Homo sapiens: one gene and its partners. The protein of the gene in region 1 interacts with the protein of each later gene in a pairwise test. Each region holds a gene or a part of one and is shown in the gene's direction. Other genes may lie near its edges.

Region 1 (8,584 bases):
AATGCGTCCGCACACACCAATGACTGTCATTTACTCAGTACTGACAGATTTATAGATTTGATGCAATCCCCATCAAAATCTCAAAGGGGATTTTAAGAAGTAAACCAGAAGATTTGAAAATGTATATGGAAAAGCAACGGCTCTAGAATCGTCCAAACAATCTTCAAAAATAACACAGTTGGAAGACTTACACTACGTGACATCAAGATTTACCATGGGCCGGGCACGGCGGCTCACGCCTGTAACCCCAGCATTTTGGAAGGCAAAGGCGGGAGGACAACGTGAGCTCAGGAGTTTGAGACCAGCCTGGGGAACATACTGATAATCCATCTCTATTTTTTATTTGTATTTTTTTAAAAAAAAGATTTACCATAAAGATACAAGATGATAAGTCAAGATGATGTGGTATTGATCAAAGGATAGACAGAACAACAGAACAAAACAGAGTCCAGAAATAGATTGACAAACACATAGTTAACTCATTTTCTACAAAAATACCAAGTCAGGCTGGGTATGGTGGCTCATGCCTGTAATCCCAATGCTTTGGGAGGCCAAGGTAGGAGGATCACTTGAGCCCAGAGATTTGAGACCCGCTTGGGCAAAACAGTGAGACCCTGTCTCAAAAAAAGAAAAGAAAAGAAAAGAAAATCAGAAATGACCAGCTGTGGTGACTCACGCCTGTAATCCCAGCACTTTGGGAGGCTGAGGCAGGTGGATCACTTGAGGTCAGGAGTTTGAGACCAGCCTGGCCAAAATGGTGAAGCCCCATCTCTACTAAAAATACAAAAAAAAAAAAAATTAGCCAGGTATGGTGGCACGCACCTGTAGTGCCAGCTACTCAGGAGGCTGAGGCAGAAGAACCACTTGAACCTGGGAAGTGGAGGTTGCAGTGAGCCGAGATCGTACCACTGCACTCCAGCCTGGGCCACAGAGTGAAACTCCATCCCAAAAAAATTTTTAAAAATCGTAATGAAAAGTACCAAGTCAAGTCAATGGGAAAAGGAATGTCTTTTCAATGGAAGTTCCTGGAAAAACTGGAAATCGATTTGGGAAAAAATAAATGTGACTCCTATATGTGACTTTATTCACAAAATCAATTTGAGGTAGGCCAGGTGCGGTGGCTCACACCTATAATCCCAGCACTCTGGGAGGCCGAGGCGGGCGGATCACTTGAGGTCAGGAGTTCAAGCCCAGCCTGGCCAACGTGGTAAAACCCTGCCTCTACTAAAAATACAAAATTAGCCTGGCATGTTTGTGCATGCCTGTAATCCCAGCTACTTGGGGGCTGAGGCAGGAGAATTGCTTAAATCCGGGAGGCAGAGGTTGCAGTGAGCTGAGATCACGCCACTGCACTCCAGCCTGGGCGACAAGAGCGAAACTCCATCTCAAAAAATAATAATAAATTTGAAGTAGATCATGAACCTAACCTAAAACCAGAACTATAAAGCTTCTAGAAGATAGCATAGCACACTGTCTTTGCAATATGGGGCAGGCAAAGCATCCTTGGACACAATACAAAAAGAAAAAACTGATCAAATGAATTGAAAATTGAAAAAAATTATTTATCAGAATTTCAAATTTCTGCTTATCCAAAGACACCACATTCAGAAAATGGATAAGTTACAGACCTGGAAAAAAAATCTTTGCAGTCATAAAGCTGACAAAACACTTATATTCAAGTTGTGCAAAGACATCAACAACAAACAACAAATCAACAATAAACAACCACATTACAGAATGGCCAAAAGACTTCAAAAGACACTTAAAGATATACAAATGACAGGCCGGGCGCAGTGGCTCACACCTGTAAACTCAGCACTTTGGGAGGCCGAGGCGGGTGGATCACCTGAGGTCAGGAATTTGAGAGCAGCCTGGCCAATATGGTGAAACCCCGTCTCTACTAAAAATACAAAAATTAGCCAGGTGTGGTGGTGCATGCCTGTAATCCCAACTACTCAGGAGGCTGAGGGAGGAGAATTGCTTGAACCCAGAAGGCAGAGGCTGCATCGAGTGGAGATTGTGCCACTGCATGGAAGCCCAGACCACACAGCAAGACTCCATCTCAAAAAAAAAAAATATATATATATATATACATATATATATATATATACACAAATGACCAGAAAGCACTTTCAAGAGTTCTTGACTTCGTTAATCACCAAGGGAATTCAATTCAAAACCACAGAGAAATACAACTTCTTACCCACTAGAGTGGCTAAAATCAAAGGCTGATTTTTCAATGGGTAATGGGGACTACTAGAGGGAGGAGGGGCTGGAAGATGTGGACTGAGAAACTACTGTTGGGTGTTGTACTCACCACCTGGGTGACGGGATCACCCATACCCCAAACCTCAATGTACTCATGTACATTGTACTCATGAGTCATGTACCATCACTCAGTGTACTCATGTAACAAACTTGCACATGTACCCCCCGAATCTAAAATAAAAGTTGAAATTAAATAAAAGATAAAATACCATTCCATATCTTTTTAAAAAGACACATTTGGTTATCTACTGTTGCATAACACATCACTCCAAACCTTCGTAACTTAAATAACTACAACCATTGTATTTTCTCTCACAGCTTCTTTGGGTCAGGAATTCAGGAAAGGCTTGTCTGCTTGGGGCTGGCCTGGGGTCTCTCCTGCTGCTGCTGCAGGACGATAGCTGGATGGGAAAAGTGGGGGCTGGAGGAGCTGAGGCATCTTTCTCTCCATACATCTTAGAGGCTCTCCACGTGGACTAGGTGGGGATTTATCAAGGTGTGACAGCCTTGGGGTCCTCAGACTTCTCAATGGGAGGCTCAGGACTCTACAGCAAGCACGTCATGGGCTAAGAAGATGGATGGATGCTGCATTCCCTTTAGGACCTAGCCTGAGAAGTCACACAGAGGCACTTCTGCCACATACTATTGGTTACAAGCGAGTCAACAAACCCCTTAAATTGAAGGAGAGCGGAATGAGACTCTGCGTCTTGCCATGGGAATGGCAAGATTCTTGAAGAGTATGTGGGACAAGAGATATTACTGCAGCCAGTTTTATTTTATCATTTTATTTTATTTTGAGATGGAGTCTTGCTCTGTCACCCAGGCTGGAGCACAGCAGTTTTATTTTATTTTATCATTTTATTTTATTTTGAGATGGAGCCTTGCCCTGTCACCCAGGCTGGAGTGCAGTGATGCAATTTCAGCTCACTGCAACCTCTACCTCCTGGGTTCAAGTGATTCTCCTGCCTCAGCCTCTCAAATAGCTGGGATTACATGCACCCACCACCATGCCCAGCTAATTTTTGTATTTTTAGTAGAGACGGGGTTTCTCCATGTTGGCCAGGCTGGTCTCAAACTCCTGACCTCAAGTGATCCACCCACCTCGGCCTCCCAAAGTGCTGGGATTACAGGCGTGAGCCACCATGCCCAGCCTCTGCAGCCATTTTCAGATAATACAATCTGTGGAGGGTAAACCTAGAAAGAAAAGCAGGTGATGCATCATACCAGGCCTTGTAAGCCACACTTTGTTATTTTTTTTTTTAAGACACAGAGGCCGGGCGTGGTGGCTCAAGCCTGTAGTCCCAGCACTTTGGGAGGCCGAGGTAGGCGGATCACAAGGTCAGGTGTTCGAGACCAGCCTGGCCAATATGGTGACACCCCGTCTCTACTAAAAATACAAAAAATAAAAAATAAAAAATCAGCCAGGCGTGGTGGCACGCACCTGTAGTCCTAGCTACTAGGGAGGCTGAGGCAGAAGAATCACTTGAACCTGAGAGGCAGAGGTTGCAGTGAGTCACGTTCACGCCACTGCATTCCAGCCTGGGCAACAGAGGAAGGCTCTGTCTCCCAAAAAAAAAAAAAGAGAGAGAAAGTCTTGCTTTGTTACCCAGGCTGGACAGCAGTGGTGCGATCTCGGCTCACTGCAGGCTCAAGTTCCTCCACAAGTGCCCCTCAGCGCAGCTGGTTAATTTTTTGTAGAGATGGGGTCTCACTACGTTGCCCAGAATGGGCTCAAGCGATCCACCCACCTTGACCTCCCAAAGTGTTGGGACTACGGGTGTCAGCCCTGCACAGAGCCCCACAAGAGTTTAGATCTTGATGTAAATTGTGATGAGGAAGCAATGGAGGACTTTTTGGCTTTTTATGTTTTGTTTTTCATCACTGGAGACTTTTAGCAAGAGAGTGAACGGTTTGGTTGTTTTTAAAAGTTTGTTCTAGCAGCTGTGCGGAAAAAGAGTTCGTGGGGAAGGTTTGAAAGCAGAGACCATTCAGGAGAGGACCCAGAAGTCCCAGTGCCAGACACGGCAGTCGGCCCCAGCCTGGGTAAGGGACAAGGGAGAGGGTAGGGGACACGGAAGCCCACCAGGTTTCCAGCCAGTCCAGCGGTTTTGTTCACTAAAGTGGAAAACCATGAAGAAGTAAGTTTGTTTTGGACACATTGGCTTTGAGAGTCCAGGGTAGATGTACGAGGCTGAAACTCAGGCAATAAAAATTGAGGGGAGAATACACAGCATTTAAAAAGGTACAGGAGGCCGAGCACGGAGGCTCATGCCTGTGATCCCAGCGATCTAGGAGGCCGAGGCGGGAAGATCGATGGAGCCCAGGAGTTCGAGACCAGCCTGAAACCAAAAATCAAAACTCTTAGCCAGGCGTGGGGATGGGAGGCCAAGGCAGGAGGATCGAGGCACGGGACTGGACGAGATGAGTGTCAGCCCAGGGATTTAAAATCTCTCTGCCCACCCTCCCCTTCCTGCGGTCAACTGTCCAGATTCCAACAGACAAAAGCAAGCATGGGCGAACCACCGTGCGCCGCGGTCCCCGACAGAAGCACGCATGCGCACACCTCTGTGTGCGGAGGTTTCCGACAGACGCACGCATGCGCACACTTCTATGCGCGGAGGTCTCCGCAGACAGAAGCACGCATGCGCACATCGCTGTGCCGGTATCGCCAACAGATGGAAGCACGCATGCGCGCACCGCTGCGTACCTAGCACTCCGACAGATGTACGCATGCGCACAACGCTCTGTTCTCGAGATCCCCGACAGAAGCACACATGCGCACACCGCTGTGTGCCAAGGTCGCCAAAAGACGGAAGCACGCATGCGCACACCGCGGTCCGTGGGGCACCGGGCGGAAGCGTCCTGACTGCGCAGGCGCAGCAGGGGTGGTCGCCATGGAGACGCGTGGCCCTGGCCTGGCGGTCCGCGCTGAGAGTCGCCGATTAGTCGGCATCGGGCCTCGGGCGCCCCCGGGGCGGGTTGGGTTGCAGCCCAGCGGGCGGCTGGACCGCCGCGGTGGGGCGGGGACAATGGGGTACAAGGACAACGACGGCGAGGAGGAGGAGCGGGAGGGCGGCGCCGCGGGCCCGCGGGGGTCTAGACTGCCCCCCATCACAGGCGGCGCCTCCGAGCTGGCCAAACGGAAGGTGAAGAAGAAAAAAAGGAAGAAGAAGACCAAGGGGTCTGGCAAGGGGGACGGTAAGAGGAGCAGCTAGCCCGGCTGCGTCAGCTCCGGTTCCCTGGAGACTCTTTGGGGACCCACCCCCCATTTACCCTTCAGACCGGAAACAGAAGCTCAGTGGTCCCGGACCGAGGTCCTCCTGCTCCCCACACATGCCCGTCAGCAGCACGTTGATGCCCCAGCCCCACCCGTGGAGACCATCCACCAACTCTGCGGTCCCTTAGCCCCACACAGAGACCCCTACAGATATCCACCATTCCTAAGAGCCTTCCAGCCCCACACAAAGACACCCTCTCAACTTCCTAATCCCTCAGCCAAAACTGGCAGTCTTAAACGTCTGCGCCTTCCCCACAGAGGCCCTCCTCACAAGACACTTTCCCCACCCCAAACACATTGATGCCACATGAAAGGCCCTCACTCTCATGCACAGAGAAGGGCAGACTCCTGCCTCCCCTCCTCCCACCCTCTTGCGTTAAGGCTGCCTGCCTGTGGATGCGCGGTAGACACCCACACCCACAGACGTGTGTATTAAAGGTCCTCGCTGCATGGGCTCCCCCTCGCACCCACCAAGGGGCAGCCTTGGACTGCACAAACCCCATGACACCAGTCACTGTGACATCCTCCTATAATCCCTGACACCCTCAACCACTCCCCGCTTCATATCAGTGTAACACCCACAGTGAAACTAAAGGGCGGGGGACACCCTCAACCACTCCCCCCACCTTCTATCAATGTAACACCAACAGTGAAACTAAAGGGCGGGACGCAGTGGCTCACACCTGTAATCCGAGCACTTTGGGAGGCCGAGGTGGGAGGATCACTTGAACCCAGGACTTCCAGGCTGCAGTGAGCTATGATCGCACCATTGCACTCCAGCCTGGGCAACAAGCAAGACCCTGTCTCTCAAAAAAACAAACAAGAAAACTAAAGCACAGATCCCCCTCATGCACACACATTCCTAGTCTACACACACAGACTGTTAATACGTTATCCATTCGCGTGTGTAGTCATATGCAGGCAGGAATTGCAGTCTCTCTCAGGGACACCTTCACAAACACACATACCCTACCTGCCATAAACCCCAGTCCCTACATCTCACCAAGCTCTTCTTGTAGAACCCCTACATTTCTTGACAAGGGGACTGAGCACCCACTTTGAGGAGAGAGAGCACAGCAGTGACAGAGAATGCAGGTGCCCGTGAGTGCTGTGAGGCCACTGTCGCCCGTGTGGTCCACCTCAGTGGCTTTGGCTGTCTGGGAGAGGGCTCTAAGCTCCAGTTCTGGGGCCTGGCCCTCTGTGGCAGAGCTGGCACCAAGGCAAGCAGGAGGCAGAGTGGCAGCCTCGCCCATATGGACCGTGCAGTGTGGGAAGGGAGCAATGGGAAGATGATAAGTACTTCTCAGGCGTAATACAAAGGCAAGAAAATTCTGCAGTTCAGGTCAAGAAGCCCTGTGTGGCTGGGCACATGGCTCACGCCTGTAATCCCAGCACTTTGGGAATTCAAGACCAGCCTGGCCAACATGGTGAAACCCCGTCTCTACTGAAAATACAAAAATTAGCTGGGCATGGTGGCAGGCACCTAGAATTGCTTGAACCTGAGAGGCGGAGGTTGCAGTGAGCCAAGATTGTGCCACTGTGCTCCAGCCTGGGTGGCAGAGTGAGACTCAGTCTCAAAAAAAAAAAAAGCCCTGTGTGTATCTGCAAAAAGAAATTTGGCAGTTCATTGTCCTTTTGGCGTAGCTTTTCACTGTAGAAATTACAGTGACATGTGCCTCATACCATCAGCAGGGGGCACCAGATAGTTTCCAGGGCGTAGCAAGGGAGGGAAATGTCAAAAGATGATTTCTTTCTCTCTCCCCTAAAATAAAAGGACGAGCTGATGAAAGAACCACAATTTGTAGCATTTTATGTGCATGTTAAATAATTCTGAAGTGCTATTGATGTTAAAAAAAAAAATCAGTACAAGCCATACAGCAGAAGTATTTCTGGCTTGGCATAATACTGCTTTCAGTCAAATTTAGGAAGCTTTTCTGTTGTTTTCCGTTCCTTCCATCATAAAGTGTCTAGACTAGGGTAGAGTCACAGACTCCCAGAACTGGGAATGGCCGTGGTGAGCACATGGCGAGGATGGATGAGGGCAGCACGGCCCAGTGGAAAGAATGGGGCATTGGGGGCCCAGCCTGCACTCAGGTCCCAGCTCTGCCACTCGCTCATGACATTGGCAAGTTCCTGAACCTTTTGGAGCTTCGGTTTCCTCACCCGAAGAATAGGGCCGATCGCCTTTACCCAGACGGCCTGGCTCAGACTGTGTGCTCAATGAATGGTTCCTCCTGCCCTGAAATGATTTCAGCAAAATCACACAGGCAGGTGGGCACGAGGCTGGTGGGCTTGGCAGCCTGAGCCCTGGGTACGGAGGGGCCCCCATCCTCCTCTTCCATCTTGGGTGATTTTGGCACCATCCCCAGCAGGCCAAGGTCAGACATTGCCACAAACACTAACCTGCTCATCTACTCAGCAGATAAACATCAGAGTCAGAGCCTGAAGAGCCAGCCGCTTTCTTCCTCCTTTCATGACATCTTAAGTCCTTGCAAAGAGCGTGGCCCGAAACCAGAGCACAGACAGAGCAAAGTGGAAAAGAAGCACCTCCCTTCTGACTCCTCCACCGTCAGCCTCCCCGACTTTGCCGAAATAGAGAACCTTGCGAATCGGATCAACGAAAGTCTGCGTTGGGATGGAATTCTTGCTGACCCGGAGGCAGAGAAGGAAAGGATTCGCATCTATAAACTGAATCGGAGAAAACGGTACCGGTGCTTGGCCCTCAAGGGCTTCCACCCCGACCCCGAGGCCCTCAAGGGCTTCCACCCCGACCCCGACGCCCTCAAGGGCTTCCACCCCGACCCCGAGGCCCTCAAGGGCTTCCACCCCGACCCCGAGGCCCTCAAGGGCATCCACCCCGACCCCGAGGCTCTCAAGGGCTTCCACCCCGACCCCGAGGCCCTCAAGGGCTTCCACCCCGACCCTGAGGCCCTCAAGGGTTTCCACACTGACCCCGAGGCCCTCAAGGGTTTCCACATTGACCCCGAGGCCCTCAAGGGCTTCCACCCCGACCCCAAGGCCCTCAAGGGCTTCCACCCC
Region 2 (7,748 bases), on another chromosome or scaffold:
AAAGACAACTTGGGCCTGACTCAGAGGGCCTCATTAACAAAGCAAACAATCAAAGAAAGAAACAAACAAAAATCTTGAGAAACACTGGCAAGCCGTAAAGAGCCAACAATCCTATTGCAAAATTAAGAAGTGCACGCTCATGATGAAAAGTTGAAGAGTACATCAAGTTAAAAAATAAAATAATGAGGCTGGGTGCACTGGCTCACGCTGTAATCCCAGCACTTTGGGGGGCCAAGGCGGGCAGATCAGCTGAGGTCAGGAGTTCAAGACTAGCCTGGCCAACATGGTGAAACCCTGTCTCTACTGAAAATACAAAATTAGTGGGGCGTGGTGGCACATGCCTGTAATCCCAGCTACTCAGGAGGCTGAGGCAGGAGAATCGCTTGAACCTGGGAGGCGGAGGTTGCAGTGAGCCAAGATCACGCCATTGCACTCCAGCCTGGGTGACAAGAGTGAAACTCCATCTCAAAAATAAATAAATAAATAAATAAAATAAAATAATAAGCCTGGCGCAGTGGCTCACGCCTTTAATCCCAACAGTTTGGGAGGCTGAGGCAGGAGGACTGCTTGAGGTCAGGAGTTTGAGACAAGCCTGGACAACATAGTAAGAACCCATCTCTACCAAAAAATGTGAAGGCTGGGCGCAGTGGCTCATGCCTGTAGTCCCAAGACTTTGGGAGGCCGAGGCGGGTGGATCACCTGAGGTCAGGAGTTCGAGACCAGACTGGCCAACATGGCAAAACCCCATCTCTACTAAAAGTATAAAAATTAGCCAGGCGTGGTGATGGGTGCCTGGAATCCCAGCTACTCAGGAGGCTGAGACAGGAGAATAGCTTGAGCCTAGGAGGCAGAGCTTGCAGTGAGCCGAGATCGTGCCACCTCACTCCAGCCTGGGCGACAAAAGCGAGATTCTGTCTCAAAAAAAAAAAAAAAAAAAAAAAAATTTTTTTAAATTAGCCAGGCGTGGTGGTACATGTCTGTAGTTCCAGCTATTTGGGAGGCTGACCCGGGAGGTTGAGGCTGTAGTGGGCCATGATTGAACCACTGCACTCTAGCCTGTGTGACAGAGGGAGACTCCATCTCAAGAAAATAATAATAATAATAATTATTATAATAATAATAATTATTATTATTATTTTTAAAAATTTTTTCTCTGGCTGCTTTGCTGCCAGCTTCACCCCAGAAGTCCATTCTCTGTGAGGTTCCGCCTGACAGCTGTGAGCATATTGACTAAATGCTGTCTTCAAGGTGCATGGCAGGGACTATCTTAGAAATACCATTCTCCTCTTTCATTCTTTGACTTAATGTTTTATGTGAAGTTTTCCATATTAGGGCCGGGCAGGGTGGCTCACGCCTGTAATCCCAGCACTTTGGGAATCCGAGGTGGGTGGATCACTTGAGGTCAGGAGTTCAAGACCAGCCTGGCCAACATGGCAAAACCCCATCTCTACTAAAAATACAAAAATTAGCCAGGCGTGATGGTGGGCGCCTGTAATCCCAGCTACTTGGGAGGCTGAGGCACAAGAATTGCTTGAACCTGGGAGGTGGAGGTTGCAGTGAGCTGAGATCGAGCCACTGCACTCCAGCCTGGACGACAGAGCAAGACTGTGTCTCAAAAAAAAAAAAAGTTTACTGTTTTCCATATTAGCAATGTTGAATGCTACCCTATGTCAAATGGATTTTTATACGCAAAGGATTAAGCATATTGTGAGCACATAGTCTGATGATTTGGGGCAAACTGAACAGAATCACGTCAGCTGCAACGAGACTGCGTCTCCCTGAAGCCCCCTCAAGACCTTATTTAGCCCCTGCCCCCCAACCCAAGGGTAACCCCTGATCTGGCTGCTAACAGCATAGATTAACTTTGCCTGTGTTCAAACTTCCTATTAACGGAATAATTCAGTATGAACTCATTTCTGGCTCTTTTTGGCTGAACATGTTTTTGACGTTCACCCATGCAGGTGCAGGCAGCAGTAATGTATTTGTTTTTATCAATGTTAGTATTCCATTGTCCACAATTTATCTTTTCTGCTGTTAGTGGACATTTGAGTAGTTTGCAGTTTTGGACAATTTTTTTTTTTTTTGAGTTGGAGTCTCACTCTGTTGCCCAGGCTGGAGTGCAGTGTCACGATTTCGGATCACTGCAACCTCCACCTCCTGGGTTCAAGGGGTTCTCGTGCCTCAGCTTCCCAAGTAGCTGGGATGACAGGAGTGTACCATCATGCCCTGCTAATTTCTGTATTTTTAGTAGGGATGGGGTTTCACCATGTTAGCCAGGCTGGTCTCGAACTCCTGATCTCAAGTGATGCGCCTACCTCGGCCTCCCAAAGTGCTGGGATTACAGGCGTGAGCCACTGCACCTGGCTGTTTTGCACTATTATGCATGTGGCTGCTATGAGCATTCTAGTCCCTGTCTTTGGGTGTCTCTGCCCTGTTTCTATTGGTCTGAATTGGGGGTGGCATTGCTGGGTGCTGCCTCATTCTTTTCCAGGCCCTCAGGATTCTCTGGGGGCTGGGCAGCTGGGCTGTGGCCCTCGTGTCGCTCATCCAACCCTGCTGCCGGGCTTGTCCCTGTAACTTGCCTGCCCTTGCTCGTCCTCCAGGTGTGTCTGACGCTGACCGCCAAGCGCATGGCCCGGAAGAACTGCCTGGTGAAGAACCTGGAGGCTGTAGAAACCCTGGGCTCCACGTCCACCATCTGCTCAGATAAGACAGGGACCCTCACTCAGAACCGCATGACAGTCGCCCACATGTGGTTTGACAACCAGATCCACGAGGCTGACACCACTGAGGACCAGTCAGGTGAGCGCAGGCCCCGGGTGAGGACCATGGGGGCCTGGCTCCAGGAGTCCCTGGCCCTCACACATGCCTCCCCCAGGGACCTCATTTGACAAGAGTTCGCACACCTGGGTGGCCCTGTCTCACATCGCTGGGCTCTGCAATCGCGCTGTCTTCAAGGGTGGTCAGGACAACATCCCTGTGCTCAAGGTGGGTTCAGCTACTGGCCTCACCTCGGCCCTGCCTGTGTCCTCCCCTCAGCTGTCCCTGTTCTGACAACCCTTTCTCCTTGCAGAGGGATGTGGCTGGGGATGCGTCTGAGTCTGCCCTGCTCAAGTGCATCGAGCTGTCCTCTGGCTCCGTGAAGCTGATGCGTGAACGCAACAAGAAAGTGGCTGAGATTCCCTTCAATTCCACCAACAAATACCAGGTACTCTGGGCTTTCCGGGAGAGCCAGCCTGGACCTCAGGTTCCTTATGACGCCTGTAAAGAGGTGTCATAGAGCCTTGATTTTCCCGTCTGTAAAATGGGAATGATAATACCCGCCTGGTGGGGAGAGGAACAGGGAGAGCTTGAGAGTGGGAGCCGGATCTCTGTTGGAGTGAGACGCTGAGGAGTAAAGATCTTCCTGCAGGCCAGGCGCGGTGGCTCACACCTTTAACACCAGAACTTTGGGAGGCTGAGGTGGGGGGATCACTTGAGGCCAGGAGTTCGAGACGAGCCTGGGCAAGATGGCAAAACCCCATCTGTACGAAATTTTTTTTTTAATTAGCCAGGTGTGGTGGTATGTGCCTGTGGTCTCAGCGATTTGGGAGTCTGAGGCAGGAGGATTGCCTGAGCCGGGGAGGTTGGGGCTGCAGAGAGCCTACATCACGCACTGTACTCCAGCCTGGGTGACAGAGCAAGACCCTGACTCAAAAAAAAAAAAAAAGTTTTCCTACAGCAGAGAGTGGGAACAAGCAGGAGACCTCTTGGGGCAGAGCAGCAACTTTAAATTATTCAGCAAACTTTTTTTTTTTTTGAGACAGAGTTTCGCTCTGTCACCCAGGCTGGAGTGCAGTGGCGCGATCTCAGCTCACTGCAAGCTCCACCTCCCGGGTTCACACCATTCTCCTGCCTCAGCCTCCAGAATAGCTGGGACTACAGGCGCCCGCCACCATGCCCAGCTAATTTTTTGTATTTTTAGTAGAGACGGGGTTTCACCGTGTTAGCCAGGATGGTCTCGATCTCCTGACCTCGTGATCTGCCCGCCTCAGCCTCCCAAAGTGCTGGGATTACAGGCATGAGCCACCGCGCCCGGCCTCAGTAAACTTTTTTTTGAGATGGAGTCTTGCTCTGTCGCCCAGGCTAAAAGGCAGTGGTGTGATCTTGGCTCACTGCAACCTCTGTCTCTGGGTTCAAGTGATTCTCATATCTCAGCCTCCCGAGTAGCTGGAATTAGAGGCGTGCACCACCACACCCAGCTAGTTTTTGTATTTTTAGTATTGATGGGGTTTCATCATGTTGGCCAGGCTGGTCTTGAACTCCTGACCTCAAGTGATCCACCCACCTCGGCCTCCCAAAGTGCTGGGATTACAGGCATAAGCCATCATGCCCGGCCCATTCAGTATACATTTTTTGACCAGCCACCACATGTTAGGCCCTGTTTTGGGTGCTGGGTGTACACACAGTAGTGAGTGACATGGTGAAGTCACCCCTCTCTGAGACTTACGCTCTGGTTCTAGAAGACAGACAATAACAAAGGCATGAGGAGGTAATCGTAGTGGTTGTGGTGCTGAGGGAGGGAACCCTGCAGGTGTCTGGGGGAAGAGCGCTCCGGTAGCAGGCACAGCCTGTGCAAAGGCCCAGAGGCGGGAGTGTGCTGACGCATCTGAACACCAGCCAGCCAGCCAGTGCAGAGGGGCTGGGAGCCAGGGAGCGTGGTGGGGGTGGTGGGTGCTGGCCAGATCCTGTCAGGCCCCACGGGCATGGAGAGGACTTGGCTGTGACTCTGAGGAGCACACAAGCCTCCAGGGGGCTCTCAGCCAAAGAGAGACAGGAGTTGACTCAGAGCTTTTAAAATAACTTTATTAAGATATAATTAACATACCATAGCTCGTCCCTCTAAGTGTATAATTTAATAGTTTTAGTATATTCGCAGATATAGGCAGCCATCCACATAGTCAATTTTAGAGCATTTTCATCACCTCCAAAAAGAAACCCCACATCTCTCAGCTGTCACCCGCCCCCTCCTCCCCGACACTCCCAGCCCTAAGCAACCACTAACCTACTTTCTGTCCGTATGGTTTTGCCTATTCTGGACATTTCATAAAAATGGAAGCATACAGCTGGGTGTGGTGGCTCACGCCTGTAATCCCAGCACTTTGGGAGACCGAGGCAGGAGGATCGCTTGAACTCAGGAGATGGAGACCAGCGTGGGCAACATAGGGAGAGCATGTCTCTATAAAAAATTAGCCAGGCATGGTGGTGTGGACCTGTGGTCCCAGCTACGTGGGAGACCGAAGCGGGAGGATCGCATGAGCCTGGGAGATCAAGGCTGCAGTGAGCTGTGATCTCGCCACTGTTCTCCAGCCTGGGTGACAGAGTGAGACCCTGTCTTAAAAAAAAAAAACAGGGTGGGAGGAGGGGAGCACAGACGTGGTGGCTTATGCCTGTTATCCCAGCACTTTGAGAGGCCGATGAGGGCAGATCACTTGAGGCCAGGAGTTCAAGACCAGCCTGGCCAACATGGCAAAATCCCGTCTCTACTAAAAATACAAAAGTTAGCTGGGTGTGGTGGTGGTGCCTGTAATCCCAAGCTACTCCGGAGGCTGAGGCAGGAGAATTGCTTGAACCCAGGAGGTGGAGGTTGCAGTGAGCTGAGATCGTGCCACTGCACTCCAGCCTGGGCAACAGAGCGAGACTCTGTCTCAAAAAAAAAAGAAAAAAGAAAAAAAGAAAAAGAAAAAGAAATATATATCCATGACATAGACAGAGCGGACAGGAATGAGCAGAGGTCTCTGTGAGAGAGTGTGGGGGAGCCCTGGTGTGGGCCTATCCTGGCACCCGTGGCTCTGGACAGGGGACAGGATGGGGCAGGGAGCTTCCTGGTGTCTGCGTGGCTCAGGCACGCCACCCTCTGATCGGTCCCCAGCTCTCCATCCATGAGACCGAGGACCCCAACGACAACCGATACCTGCTGGTGATGAAGGGTGCCCCCGAGCGCATCCTGGACCGCTGCTCCACCATCCTGCTACAGGGCAAGGAGCAGCCTCTGGACGAGGAAATGAAGGAGGCCTTCCAGAATGCCTACCTTGAGCTCGGTGGCCTGGGCGAGCGCGTGCTTGGTGCGAGGCTGCCGGGCGGGCTCTGGGGTCCCTGGAGGGCAAGGAGGGTTGTGATGCTGCCCAAAGCCTGTCTCAGCCCAGGGCCTCCCAGAATATACTGTAAATGAATGAATGAATGAATGAATGGATGGATGAGAGGGGAAGGTATCCTAGGAAATGAATGCTGACTGGCCGTCTTGCTGATGGGGAGATGGAATGCGGGCGATGCAGACATCTAGGGGCATGGGGCGGAGGTTCCGAGGCTGGGACCCTCACACCCCAACCCTTCCCTGCCACTAGGTTTCTGCCATTATTACCTGCCCGAGGAGCAGTTCCCCAAGGGCTTTGCCTTCGACTGTGATGACGTGAACTTCACCACGGACAACCTCTGCTTTGTGGGCCTCATGTCCATGATCGACCCACCCCGGGCAGCCGTCCCTGACGCGGTGGGCAAGTGTCGCAGCGCAGGCATCAAGGTGTGGCTTGGGGTGGCTGGGGGAGGCAAAGCCAGGCGTGGGGCGGGAGAGGCCATCCCTAAAAAACAATGCCTGCAGGTCATCATGGTCACCGGCGATCACCCCATCACGGCCAAGGCCATTGCCAAGGGTGTGGGCATCATCTCTGAGGGCAACGAGACTGTGGAGGACATCGCCGCCCGGCTCAACATTCCCGTCAGCCAGGTTAACCCCCGGTGAGCCACCCATCCCAGCCAGGGCCCTGGACATCCCTCTAGGGTGTTGACACAGGGGGACCGCTTCCCCCCAACCTCCCTCTGCACTGCCTGTCCCATTCTTTCTGGGACTCCTCCATGGACCAGGCCCTGGGTCTGGCCCTCCCTCCGGTGTGGGGACATTGCAGCCACAGAGGTAGCCAGGCATAGGTTTGCATCCCAGCCTTTATTTTATTTTATTTATTTATTTATGTTTTTGAGATGGAGTCTTGCTCTGTCGCCCAGGCTGGAGTGCAGTGGGGCAACCTCAGCTCACTGCAGCCTCCGCCTCCCGGGTTCAAGCAATTATCTGCCTCAGCCTCTTGAGTAGCTGGGATTACAGGGGCCCTCCACCATGCCCCGCTAATTTTTTTTTTTTTTTTTTGTATTTTTAGTAGAGACGGGGGTTTCACTATGTTGGCCAGGCTGGTCTCGAACTCCTGACCTCAGGTGGTCCACCTGCCTTGGCCTCCCAAAGTGCTGGGATTACAGGCGTGAGCCACTGCGCCCGGCCTGCATTCCAGCTTATACCGCTCACAAGCTGTGTGACATTGGGCAAGTCCTTTAGCATCCATGAACTTCAGTTTGCCCATCTCTAAAATGGGCTACTAATAATTCCTATCTCAGAGGATTCAGTAGAATCCAGTACTTCTGTGTCTGTCTCTCTTTTTTCCTGTCTGTCTGTCATTGTCTCTCTTTTCTGTTCTGTTTTTCTGACTTCTTCAACTTTCCCATCCTCATACCTATCTCTGACTCTGCCTTCCTTCAGCTTGTCCATTTATCTCCGTTCCTCTGAATCCACTGTGTCTTGGCTGGGCGCAGTGGCTCACGCCTGTAATCCCAGCATTTTGGGAGGCCGAGGTGGGTGGATCACTTGAGGTCAGGAGTTCGAGAGCAGCCTGGCCAACATGGCAAAACCCCATCTGCACTAAAAATTAAAAAAAAATTAGCCAGGC
Region 3 (6,694 bases), about 64 Mb from region 1:
CTTGGCTCACTGCAAGCTCCGCCTCCCGGGTTCACGCCATTCTCCTGCCTCAGCCTCCCGAGTGGCTGGGACTACAGGCACACGCCACCACGCCCGGCTAATTTTTGTATTTTTCAGTAGAGACAAGGTTTCACTATGTTGGCCAGGCTGGTCTTGAACTCCTGACCTCATGATCCACCCGCCTCGGCCTCCCAAAGTGTTGGGATTACAGGCGTGAGCCACTGCGCCCGCCCGGCAAATTCACCATTTTCCAGTGTATACTTAACCATTTTAAAGTGTATAATTCAGTTGCATTAGGTCCGTTCACATTGCTGTGCAACCACCACCACTATCCATCTCCAGAGCTTTTTCTTTTTAAGTGAAAGCAAGTTTATTAGAGAAGTAAAGAAACAAAAGAATGGCTACTCCATAGGCAGAGCAGCCACTGAAACACTGTACCCATTAAACACTAACTCCCCATTGCCCCTCCAGCAACCCCTAGCAACCACTGTCTACTTTCTGTCTCTATGAATTTGACTATTTGAGGTACATCACATAAGTGGAATCATATATTTGTCCTTTCATGTCTGCCTTATTTCATTTAGCATAACGTTTTCAAGGTTTTCCTGTGTTGAAAATATATCAGAATTTCATTCTCTTTTTAAGGTAGAATCATATCATTTTAAAACATTTCAGTTGGACCATCTAAGTTCAGTCCTTCATTTTCAAAATTAAAAAACAGGCCTCAAACGGGTACATCTCACGTTAGCTAGAGACAGAACTGGAGCTAGAAGTCAGATCTCTTACAAAGTTGCCTTTCTTCTTCTGTGGGTAAGTGGGGCACCCTTGGGACGCTGTGCTGGGCGTACATGGGTGCTTGATGAAGTTACTTGGTGGACTGATGTGATTGATGTCCAACATGTATGCAGGGACAGAGGCTATGGTCCCTACAGAGCAGGCATGGAGAGAAGGAGAAATACATACGGGCAGGAGCCAGGAGAGGGAGGGTGTAGTGAGCAGAGACCGCGCCACTGCACTCCAGCCTGAGTGACAGAGTGAGAATCCATCTAAAAAAAATTGCTTGCTAAAGAAGTGGTCTCCTGAGGTCTTAAGACGTTCCTGACAATGTCTTGAGTGGGTGGGAGAGAGGCTGCAGTCATTGTGCTGTGGAATTTCAGAGGTGAGAACCACACCTAACCAAAATTACTTTCCCTGTTTGCCTCAGTGACACAGCTGCAGGAACCCTGGTGGGTGTTGTATTAAGTAAATTTGACCTTTATTCTTTGCAGATCTGTGAAATGTTGTCTTCTGAGGGGCCACGTGTATCTGTAGTGCTGAGGACTCCTTGGGCCTCTGAAGTCACAGAGAGAACCCTGCAGGGTGGGGGACCAGTGTGTGACAGCCCTGCTTTGCATTTTCTTTGAGAAGTGCTGTCATTTTGCATTTCTCTCCACCAGGGCAATCTTCAATCTTGAGAGGTGTGATCATAACTTGCCTTGTTTCTTGTCGCTACAGAGAACGGAAGGCTCCCTTGATGGAACTTAGACAGCAAGGCCAGATGCACATCCCTGGAAGGACATCCATGTTCCGAGAAGAACAGATAATCCCTGTATTTCAAGACCTCTGTGCACTTATTTATGAACCTGCCCTGCTCCCACAGAACACAGCAATTCCTCAGGCTAAGCTGCCGGTTCTTAAATCCATCCTGCTAAGTTAATGTTGGGTAGAAAGAGATACAGAGGGGCTGTTGAATTTCCCACATACCCTCCTTCCACCAAGTTGGAACATCCTTGGAAATTGGAAGAGCACAAGAGGAGATCCAGGGCAAGGCCATTGGGATATTCTGAAACTTGAATATTTTGTTTTGTGCAGAGATAAAGACCTTTTCCATGCACCCTCATACACAGAAACCAATTTTCTTTTTTATACTCAATCATTTCTAGCGCATGGCCTGGTTAGAGGCTGGTTTTTTCTCTTTTCCTTTGGTCCTTCAAAGGCTTGTAGTTTTGGCTAGTCCTTGTTCTTTGGAAATACACAGTGCTGACCAGACAGCCTCCCCCTGTCCCCTCTATGACCTCGCCCTCCACAAATGGGAAAACCAGACTACTTGGGAGCACCGCCTGTGAAATACCAACCTGAAGACACCGTTCATTCAGGCAACGCACAAAACAGAAAATGAAGGTGGAACAAGCACAGATGTTCTTCAACTGTTTTTGTCTACACTCTTTCTCTTTTCCTCTACCATGCTGAAGGCTGAAAGACAGGAAGATGGTGCCATCAGCAAATATTATTCTTAATTGAAAACTTGAAATGTGTATGTTTCTTACTAATTTTTAAAAATGTATTCCTTGCCAGGGCAGGCAAGGTGGCTCACGCCTGTAATCCCAGCACTTCAGGAGGCTGAGGTGGGCGGATCACCTGAGGTCAGGAGTTTGAGACCAGCCTGATGAAACCCTGTCTCTACTAAAAATACAAGAATTAGCCGGGCGTGGTGGCGCATGCCTGTAGTATCAGCTACTCAAGAGGCTGAGGTGAGATTATCGCTTGAACCCAGGAAACGGAGGTTGTAGTGAGCGGAGATCGCGCCACTGCACTCCAGCCTGAGTGACAGAGTGAGAATCCATCTCAAAAAAAACAAAAAACAAAATTGCTTGCTAAAGAAGTGGTCTCCTGAGGTCTTAAGACATTCCTGACAGTGTCTTGAGTGGGTGGGAGAGAGGCTGCTGTCATTGCGCTGTGGAATTTCACAGATGAGAACCACGCCTAGCCAAAATCACTTTTCCTGTTTGCCTCAGTGACACAGCTGCAGGGACCCTCGTGGATGTTGTATTAAATAAATTTGACCTTTGCTCTTTGCAGATCTGTGAAATGTTGTCTTCTGAGGGGCCACATGCATCTATAGTGCTGAGGACTCCTTGGGCCTCTGAAGTCACAGAGAGAACCGAGCAGGTCTATGTTTTTGTTTTGTTGTTTTGAGACGGAGATTCGCTCTTGTTGCCCGGGCTGGACTGCAGCGGCGCAACCTCTGCTCACTGCAACCTCCGCCTCCTGGGTTCAAGCAGTTCTCCTGTCTCAGCCTCCCGAGTAGCTGGGATTACAGGCACATGTCACCACGCCTGGCTAATTTTTGTATTTTTAGTAGAGATGGGGTTTCACCACGTTGGCCAGGCTGATCTCGAATGCCTGACCTTTGGTGATCTGCCCGCCTTGTCCTCATGTGTGCTCCACAGGCCTTTGGGTTGGGATTGCAGGCGTGAGCCACCATGCCCAGCCTAGACTCTTTTGACAATATGATGAAAGCTGTTGGTTCCTTTCCCCAACACACACACACCGAGTTGTATCACGAAAATGTCATACAATTTCCAGGTTTTCTGAGTGGTGGGCTCAGATTGAGGTCAAAGGATCAGACGACCTCTAACGACCTTCATGTCTCTGTTGATGATCTGGGGACAGCCAGATCCCCTGTGTCCAGGGAGTTCCTTAGTCCCTTGCCACCACCAGAGAAGGGCAATTGCCACGGGAGCTGCAAAGACCCTATTCCTACTCCTGGTGCCTTACTTATGCAGCACGACTGAATTTTTTGTTTTGTTTTGTTTTGTTGAGACAGGGGCTTGCTCTGTTGCCCAGGCTGGAGTGCAGTGGCACAACAATGGCTCACCGCAGCCTCGAACCCCTGGGCTCAAGCGATCCTCCCATCTCAGCTTCCTGGGTAGCTGGGACCAGAGGCGTGAGCCGCCATAGCTGGCTAATTTTTAATTTTTTTTTTGCAGAGATGAGGTTTCACCATGGTGCCCAGGCTGGTCTCGAACTTCTGGGCTCAAGTGATCCTCCCTCCTTGGCCTCGCAAAGTGCTGGGATTGCAGGCATGAGCCACCGCCCCCGGCCTGTGGAGCACACATGAGTTTAAAATTACTTTCCCTTCTGCCTATATTTCCGAGGAGGAAACTTCATGCGCAGGGATCTTTCTTAGTGGATTTAATGGCTAAAAGGTCTGTCTGAATCCAGGACGCTGGCTTTAGCCTTCCTCGGCAGCTGCCGTAACCCCGGTGTCTAAACCTGAAGCATCCCAGGAGCACCCACTCCAGGAGTTTTCTCGGCCGCGGAACTCATTAGTTAGAGCGCCCTCTTGTGTTCTCATGTGGTAATCGGTCACTGAAGGACTTAAAATGGTCCTTAGCCAACACACAGTAAAACTTTTCCCTCTTCTGACCCCAAGAGGTCAGCCACCCATTTCATGAGCATATACTGGTCGCCCCATCAGCGTTCTCTGATTGGCTAACTGAACCCACTCCCCGACCTAGACTCAAGACAGGCGAAGTGACGCTTAGGTCAACATTCACTCACTAAAGCAACGACTGTCGGGCGATTTTGTCTCCCGCTGGTTTTGGAATGGTGTCTGGAGACATTTTTGGTTGTCACAGCTGGGTGGGTGTGCTCCCGGCATCTGGTGGGTAGAAACCAAGCATGCTCCTAAACATCCTACAGGCACAGAACCGTCTCCCACGACCAAGCATGATCAAGTCCCAAATGCCAATAATGGCCAGGTTGAGAAACTCTGCACAGAAGCATCCAGTTATTTGTCTGTTTGCTCAACAAGCTTGTGCTCATCATGCTCTGTGTTCCTGACGCTGTGCTGGGTGTTGGCGGTGGGAAGATTACAAGAGTCACATGGCAGCTGTCCTCCTGGAAGGTACAACCCAGTAGAGATGCAGACTAACAGAGAGCCAATTACAAAGCAGTGTGACAAGCGTCATGGTGGAAAATTAAAAGCTCAAACAAGGGCACATGGGAGGGGCTTCCAACACAGACTTTGGGGGATCCAGGAAGGTCTAAGAGGAAAGTGGGTCTCACCAAAGCCTTGACCATAGGCAGAGGGTACCAGTGGAAAAGGTGGGGTGAAGAACATTGAGGACAAAAGGAAGAAGTGCAGGAAGGCCCTGAGGCAAGGGAGTGGGGGGTGCCCTGGAGGGATGGCAGCAGGGCAGTCTGTCAGACCCAAGTGGCCTCCAGCCCTAGAAGCCAATTAGTCCTCCTCAAAAAGCTGTCACTGTCCCCTAAGAATTGCTGCCAGGCTCCCACTGGCCTGACTCAGTCTTTGAGAGTCTTAAGGAGGAGGTCTCTGAAAGGTACACACCAAGAACTCTCCCCAGCACAGCTGTTTTTAAGACTCTCCACCAGCGTCATTGGCGTGTTGGGAAGAAACCCTCTGCCACAGAGGCCAGCTTCAGCCTTTGCCTAACACCGCAAGGGCAAATGGAAAGGTAAACGGGAAGGAGATGTCTCCCCAGCAGGCTATTTGAGGACAGTCTTCCCTGCAGAAGATCTCAACCTGGGGTCCACAGAGTGGAAATGTTAGAGTAGGGAGCTAGGCAAACATGAGCAGGACAGGTGAGGGCCCCCACAGGAATGTCAGGCTACCATCAGGTGATGGTCAGGTGGTTGTTAAACTGTCTCTGTAAAATAATAATTGGTTGCAGCCAGCTCCAAGCAAGGACAGTCTCTCAATAGATACAAAACACCCTGATCTGGTGATCAGCCGCTTCCCGATAAGATCTCAGGAGCTGGGCAAGCAGCCTGGAGCATGCGCACCAAGAGGCAAAATGGCGGAATTTAACCAGTATATGACCTACCTTCCTCTGGGAACGCACGACTGGTAAGGGGAAAAATGCCTCAAGTGAGCATGCGCGCAACTTCAGTAATCACACTGTGCATGCGACCCCTTCCAAGTGCTGGCAGGTCACCACATACGCGGACAGCCTGCTGCAAGGGAAGAATCAGGGGAGATGAGACGTAAATCCCAGAACTATGCCAAATACATAAAACCCCAAGTTAAGGGTCAGGCAGGGCACTTAGATCTCTCAAGTTGCCTGCCTGACCCAAGTGTAGTGTACTTCCTTTTGTTCCTGCTCTAAAACTTTTTAATAAACTCTCACTCCTGCTCTAAAACTTGCCTTGGTCTCTCCCTGTGCCTTAAAACCACTTAAAACCACCTCTGCCCCTCAGCTGAGTTCTGTCTTTGAGAAGGCAAGCATCAAGTTTGCTGCAGACCCATTGGATTCACCACTGGTAACAGAAGTTGGGGTAAGGCGTGGGGCCTGAGAATTCTCTAAGAGTAGGTGCAGCCGGGCGCGGTGGCTCACGCCTGTAACCCCAGCACTTTGAGAGGCTGAGGTGGGTGGATCAGCTGAGGTCAGGAGTTCGAGACCAGCCTCAATATGGGGAAACCCCATCTCTACTAAAAATACAAAATCAGCCGGGCGTAGTGGTGCATGCCTGTAATCTCAGCTACTCGGGAGGCTGAGGCAGGAGAATTGCTTGAACCTGGGAGGCAGAGGTTGTGGTGAGCCAAGATCGAGCCATTGCACTCCAGCCTGGGCAACAAGAGCGAAACTCTGTCTCAAAAAAAAAAAAGAGTAGGTGCAAAAGGTTATGAGGGTGTGCAGTTTTCTATGGGAGAGAATCCATAGCTTTTATCCATGTCTTTGTTTGTTTTGAGATAAAGAGTCTTGCTCTGTCACGCAGGCTGGAGTGCACTGGTGTGAACATGGCTCACTGCAGCCTTGACCTCCCGGGCTCAAGCAATCCTCCTGTCTCAGCTTCCCAAAGCTGGGACCACAGGTGCCCACGACCACACCCAGCTAATTTTTAATTTTTTTGTAGAGATGAGGGTGTTACTATGTTGCCCAGGCTGGTCACAAACTCCTGGGCTCAAGTG

What was found. Proteins that work in one complex are often made in the same cells at the same time.
Region 2: the proteins of LIAT1 (region 1) and ATP1A3 interact in binary tests that used the Homo sapiens proteins (3 or more experiments, as listed by UniProt).
Region 3: the proteins of LIAT1 (region 1) and PECAM1 interact in binary tests that used the Homo sapiens proteins (3 or more experiments, as listed by UniProt).

The regions. Positions count from the first base shown.
Region 1 is NC_000017.11:405,181-413,764, forward strand, and holds the start of LIAT1 (protein LIAT1), read left to right. Parts: upstream 1-5,144; 5' UTR 5,145-5,162; coding exon 5,163-5,466; intron 5,467-7,948; exon of another isoform or gene 7,949-7,967; coding exon 7,968-8,584. UniProt on the Homo sapiens protein: Participates in nucleolar liquid-liquid phase separation (LLPS) through its N-terminal intrinsically disordered region (IDR). May be involved in ATE1-mediated N-terminal arginylation.
Region 2 is NC_000019.10:41,976,962-41,984,709, reverse strand, and holds part of ATP1A3 (sodium/potassium-transporting ATPase subunit alpha-3), read left to right. Parts: intron 1-2,603; coding exon 2,604-2,802; intron 2,803-2,878; coding exon 2,879-2,988; intron 2,989-3,073; coding exon 3,074-3,208; intron 3,209-5,911; coding exon 5,912-6,104; intron 6,105-6,383; coding exon 6,384-6,559; intron 6,560-6,637; coding exon 6,638-6,774; intron 6,775-7,748. UniProt on the Homo sapiens protein: This is the catalytic component of the active enzyme, which catalyzes the hydrolysis of ATP coupled with the exchange of sodium and potassium ions across the plasma membrane.
Region 3 is NC_000017.11:64,318,646-64,325,339, reverse strand, and holds the end of PECAM1 (platelet endothelial cell adhesion molecule precursor), read left to right. Parts: intron 1-1,494; coding exon 1,495-1,524; 3' UTR 1,525-5,925; downstream 5,926-6,694. UniProt on the Homo sapiens protein: Cell adhesion molecule which is required for leukocyte transendothelial migration (TEM) under most inflammatory conditions.